2 separate regions of the Homo sapiens genome follow, and region 2 is linked to region 1. Evidence: fine-mapped expression QTL. A gene starts in region 1. The other region holds a variant in brackets. All regions are shown on one strand. Distances are from middle to middle.

Region 1 (2,799 bases):
AGTGCCTTTTACTTGAATATCTCCCAGGCTTAAACGATCACGAATTCATAAGCGTTGTTAGTTCAGAAGGTGGCTGAGCAGGCCCCCGGAATTCAGTGTCAGCATGCCACAGGATCTGAAGTTCAGGAAAGGTGTAACAAAAAGGGATTTTTCTTTTTTCTTGAGACAGAGTTTCGCTCTTGTTGCCCAGGCTGGAGTGCAATGGTGTGATCTCCGCTCACTGCAACCTCCTCCTCCTGGGTTCAAGCGATTATTCTGCCTCAGCCTCTGCAGTAGATGGGATTACAGGCATGCACCACCACACCTGGCTAATTTTTTTTGCATTTTTAGTAGAGACGGGGTTTCTCCATGTGTCAGGCTGGTCTCGAACTCCCAACCTCAGGTGATCCGCCCGCCTTGGCCTCCCAAAGTGTTGGGATTACAGGCGTGAGCCACCGCACCCAGTTGAGATTTTTATTTCTTAAAGGAAAGGATAAGGTGGGCCAGGACTAAGACAACACAGTAGCAAACATCTGGCTGAATGCTGGAGAGGAAGACAGTGGGAGATCCAGGCCAGGCTCCATGGACGAACTGCTTGTTGGCTCCTTAGGCTTTGGGTCTGCGGGACCCTTTCGCTACTGGGAATGGGAGCCTGTCTGACTGCACTGGGTCTGAGACTCCCTGCTCCTGCTGGTCACCATCTACACGCATGTGGTGTTGGTCTCCAGGGTTAGAACCAGAACCCCTGAGGACGCGGGAAAGGCTAGGAAGCCTGGGGATGACCTAAAGTCCAGCTATCAAAATGCGCCGCGTTTTCAGAAAAACTACTGCCACGATTTAACCTAAAAAGCTTCATCTGTATTTTCTGCCACAGTTTGCTTCCGTTTCCTTCAGTCACTATTCCCTGGCGAAGTCTCCACGCGCTCCCGTTCGCCGGGGAACTTAGGGTATCCGGGCTTCCCTAAATTGACAAGCGGGGGCCGGCGCCTTCGCCCGCCTTCGCTGGCCGCCGCTTGGTTTGTTCTTCTTCTCCTTCGGGGACTTCTCCGCCCGCGCCCGCGCCCGCGCCCCAGCTTTCGTCCCGCTGTGCGGAGATGCCACCCAGCTCCACCGCAGGACCGCGGAGCGAGAGGCGGCAGACGCGCTCCGGGGGCCGCCGGTCAAGAGGAAGATGAAGGGCGCGACGACTTCGCGGTTTCCAGAATGGGCTCCTTCTGGCCCAACAATAAGTGCCATTTGGAATCTTCTCGGCCTTCTCTGTGCCTTCCGCGCGTCTGGGCTCCCCGGTACCGTAGACCCGGCCCCGAGCTCCGCCCCCTCGCCCTGGGCTTCCCCGCCCCCTCGCCCCCAGTCTCCTGGGCTCTTCGGGGCGGCGGAAGAGCCGAGAACCTTCGCGAAGGTGGGGCGGGCGCCCCCGAGGTTGGGCCCGCGGTATGGGCAGTGGAAACTGCGCATGCGCGGCGTCAGGGTCGGGCGGAAGTTGACGCCGCCGTGCCGCCGCCGCGTGACGCATTTCCTGTTTGTTGTTGGAGAAAGGAGAGAAAGGAAAGCGCGAGGAGCCGCCGCCACCACCAGCGCAGCAGTCCTGGAGCTGTGAGGAGATTCGGGCCGTCACCCTGCCTCCCCTGCGTCCCGCCACCGGCCGCTTCTGTCCTCGGTGAGGGTCTGTTCCGAGGGTCGGGGGAGGTCGCCTAGGGCCCCGCGCGCGCCCGGCAGACGGCGGACCTCACCCGGCGCCTGGCAACAGCGCGGGGGGTGACCGGGGTCGCCGGCCGGGGAAAGGACTGGACGGGGCGGGGGCCGTGGCCGGGGTTGCGGGGCGAAGGGTGGGCGGGGTCCTCTGGGTCAGGTCTGGGGCCGGGGCCGGGGCTGGGGTCTGGGGCCGCCCGGCCGCGTCCTCCCCGCCCGGCGTCCTTGCCGGAACGCGGCCCAGCCTCCGCGGCGGCGGTTGGGGGTGGGGCCCGGCCTGGGAGCGGCCGGCTGGGGCTCGGCTGGGGCTCGGCGGGGCCGGCAGCGTGGGAGGCGTGGAGCGCCTTCTTTTTCTAAGGCTCCCGCACTCGCGTCTGAAACCAGAAACGGGAGTGGCTTGCGGAGCAGGAATGCCGCAGCCGTGCCGCCAAGTTCGGAGGGAGAAGAAGCAGGTGGGGGACCGCAAAGCCCTGTTTCTAGAACTCCGGACGGATTGTTCAGAAGTTTGTGGAAGAGCAGGCTGCCTTTCTCACTCAGAATGTTTGTCTGCTTTGCTTTGCGTTAAAGAATCTGCACCGTAGTTGATGCAACTGAAGTTTATATAAGAAGTTTACATTAACTCTTACCTAAGGAAGGTCAGTGACACACGCAGTGTAAACTGCAAATCATATATTGGCTCGAGAAAGGTTTTGGCACTAGCGAATTTTTTAAAGGATGGGTTTGCTAGTCAGACGTAAACTTCTGTGCTAACTTCTCACGTAAACGGGGCAGGAAACAGCGCAAGTAGAACGATCGTGCCACCACCGAAGGGGTGCCGCCTGCGAGCTCGGAGGCTTCAGCCTGTTTGGGAAGAGTAGGCTGAGCGGCGCTCTTTGTAGTTTTCAACGTTTTTATTGAGTTGCGAATTTTAGTAAGGATTTGTCGCTACAATTTAAGCCAAATTATTGATTTAGTAGAAAAGTTAGAGTGAAGACCGAAGAAAGGAAACAGACGTTAACCATTAAAGCTTGATTGCTGCTGCTTCGTGTTTAACCGCACTTTTCCAAATAGTGTTGCGTATCAGAACGATTCATGATTTCTGAAAGGAATTATATGCAGCCGCCTTACTCCTCCGCCAGTCCACCCGTCCCG
Region 2 (2,799 bases), 78 kb after region 1:
GGGGTGCCCTGTCACAGTCAGCGGGGAGCGCCTGTCCCTGCTGCGTGGTGTGGGGTTCCCGTGGCTGGCATTTGCTGCTGTGTGGAGTCCTCAAACCCAGCGCTCGCCCTGCCTGCGTTCAGAGGACAGAGGCACCACCGGGAACCCACCGGATCCTCACTCAGGCTTTGGAAAGGCCGAGTGATGTTTTGTGTTTGTGAATTCCACACATACTGTAGGAGTATCAAGAACACGTAACTGTTAAAAAAGGAAAAGTAAAATTACTGAACAGGAAAGAAAGAATAAAGCAGGTCCTTTGTTTTTTTGGCTGAGGAAAGCAGCCTGCCCTGGAACGCTGTAGAATGTCTCCCTTTTTGTGAAGCACAGCATGGAGCTCTCGGAACTGAAGATGGGAATCTAACCCTGCCCTCAGCTTTCAACAGCTCGAAGTTTGTCTTTTTAATGAAACTAATTTGTGTATTTATACTTAAGGGTTTTCAAGTCCTTAAACTTGATAAGAAAACTTAAGTCGTTTTCTATCAGGACAAGTTTTTAAGTAGTCACTGGTGGGAGAGCGTGCCTCTGTGGACTGTGCCCAAGGCTGGCGGTCCCACGAAGTCCCAGAGCCCGCGAGCCGGTGCCCAAGGCCATGTCTGTGATTTGCAGGAGGTTCAGGTGACAGGAAGGCCTGCTCTGTTTTTCTCACTTCAATTTTGGACTTTTTTTTTTTTTTTTTTTTTTTTGAGACAGTCTCGCTCTGTCGCCCAGGCTGGAGTGCAGTGGCGTGATCTCGGCTCACTGCAACCTCTGCCTCAAGGGTTCCAGCGATTTTCCTGCCTCACCTCCCCAGTGGCCGGAACTACAGGTGCTTGCCACCACTTCTGGCTCATTTTTGTATTTTTAGTAGAGATGTGGTTTCTCCATGTTGGACTGGCTGCTCTCGAACTCCTGACCTCAGGTGATCCCCCCGCTTCAGCCTCCCAAAGTGCTGGGATTACAGGCGGGAGCCACCGCGCCCGGCAATAGTGGAGGCTTGAAGAACACCGGAAAGTGGTTTCCTTGTACCGGACCCGCCCCTCCCCCACCATCCCGGCAGCCCCAGGGCGGGTGAGGGCGACTGCAGTGTGGTCACCTCAGGCTTTCCGTCCCTAGCTCATAAAGGCCCAGTGGCAGCAGTTGCTTTAAAGGAGCTCCGTTACTCCCTTTGTTCTGGGGTCTTGGTAAAGTTTGCTTTGCTGAAGCGGAGGAACCGCAGGCGGTGCTGACCCCCCCACCCCGCCCCCATCCCACGGGGTCCCTTGGGTCCCGGGGCACGAGGCTCCTCTGAGGGACACGGCCTCCAAGAGCTGGCTCTGCCCTGGCCGCCCTCCACAGTCACGGCGGCTCCCCGCATGCTCCTCGGGACGGAGATCTCCTGGCTTCCTCCCGCTTCCTTTCCTCTGCGTTTTCCGCAGAGCCGCCTCCCTGCTTTGGAAGCAGGTACTCAGCGGCCTCTGCAGCCGCCAACGGCACACAGGCCTCTCTCTGTTCGTTCTTTCTTTCCGTAACCGTAGCTTGAGGCACATTTCCTAAATATGCAGCATGGAACGCTTGGCGGTTCTGAACGCGCATCTCGTGCTGCTCCTGTAGGGCGGTTAGGACGCGCTCCTCTGGCGAGGAAGGTGGCAGC[C/T]TCCACTGTGCACGGGTCACAGGCGAGTGTGGTGTGGTGTGGTTGTGGGTGGGGTGTGGACTGGATCTGCAGGCTTGTCCCTCTCTCGTGGAGAGCTGTCGGGGTCCAGGCAGTGCTCAGTGGTGAGAGCCACAGCACATTTGAAAGTCCACATGTGTTTGCCCCACTGTGGTCCAGGACATGTGTGAGCCACACTCAGTGGACTTGCACCTGTGACATGTTGGTCAGCGTGGCGGCCGTCAGCTGGGTGTGGAATGCATCTGATTGGAGCCTGGCACCCGGCCTACCATGATTGTGATTCTCTGGGGCGAGTCCTGAGTGTGGGCAGGGCCTCAGGCCCCCAAGAGGGCTGTGAGCAGGCACCTTCCTGTGAGGCACGATGCCACCATGTGAAGTTGTGTGGGTCTTTGGAGAGTTCTGGCAGGTTGAGGGCCTGTGCGTGTGGGACCCAGGCCTGCCCTGCCTGCTGCCGGCCATGTTCCCTCTGCCCAGTCATGTTGACAATTGTGGCCAAATTCAACATCGGGCCTGTTTCCTGCACCCACGTTGGCACACACTGAGTTCAAGACAGTTTCTGCAGAAATGAATCCAGAGGTGTTTATTTCTGGCACGTTGGATCAGACGTTCAGAGGGTGGGCGTCTTTCTCCATGCACTTCAGCTGGATCAGTCAGTGTCAGCCATTGACTTTAGCAACAGGGAAATGAAAGACTTTCCTCAATAAGAAATGGGACTTTCTCACGCTGGATGGCACAGAGCTGGCAAACATGAGGCCAGTCCACACCAAGGCTTTGCCTGCAGAAAGGCTGCACTGTGGCCAGCGGGGGAAGCGGAGGAGACACCTGTGGACACCCTCCCCACAGGTGGGCACACCTTTGCGCAGGCCCAGTGTGCGTTCTGAAGGAGAGCCCAGGGTGGGGTTCCGGGACTGAGGTGCAGCCGTGTCCAGGGTGGGCTTCTAGCTCTGCCGCTGGGCGGAACTGGGGTAGGTCCCAGGGTGGGGTTCCAGGACTGAGGTGCAGCCGTGCCCAGGGTGGGCTTCTAGCTCTGCCGCTGGGCAGAACTGGGGTAGTCCCAGGGTGGGCTTTTAGCTCTGCCGCTGGGCGGAACTCGGGTAGGTGGGAGTCCTCACTTCTCTGCAGGGTGGTGAAGC

What was found. PIP is the estimated chance that this variant, and not a neighbour inherited with it, causes the effect.
Region 2: its variant is the best candidate, but not a certain one, in a credible set for the expression of DNAJB6 in whole blood (INTERVAL, PIP 0.52).

The regions. Positions count from the first base shown.
Region 1 is chr7:157,335,509-157,338,307 of GRCh38, forward strand. DNAJB6 (DnaJ heat shock protein family (Hsp40) member B6) reads left to right here and starts at 1,496. Exons shown (of 10, transcript NM_058246.4): 1 at 1,496-1,636. RefSeq lists enhancers at 944-1,446, 1,447-1,950, 2,679-2,728 and silencers at 1,209-1,368, 1,559-1,768, 1,829-2,018.
Region 2 is chr7:157,413,021-157,415,819 of GRCh38, forward strand. The region is part of intron 9 of DNAJB6 (DnaJ heat shock protein family (Hsp40) member B6); the gene reads left to right. Among named protein-coding and RNA genes, the nearest start is that of DNAJB6, 77 kb to the left of the region's middle. The variant C/T (reference allele first, on the strand shown) is at 1,649.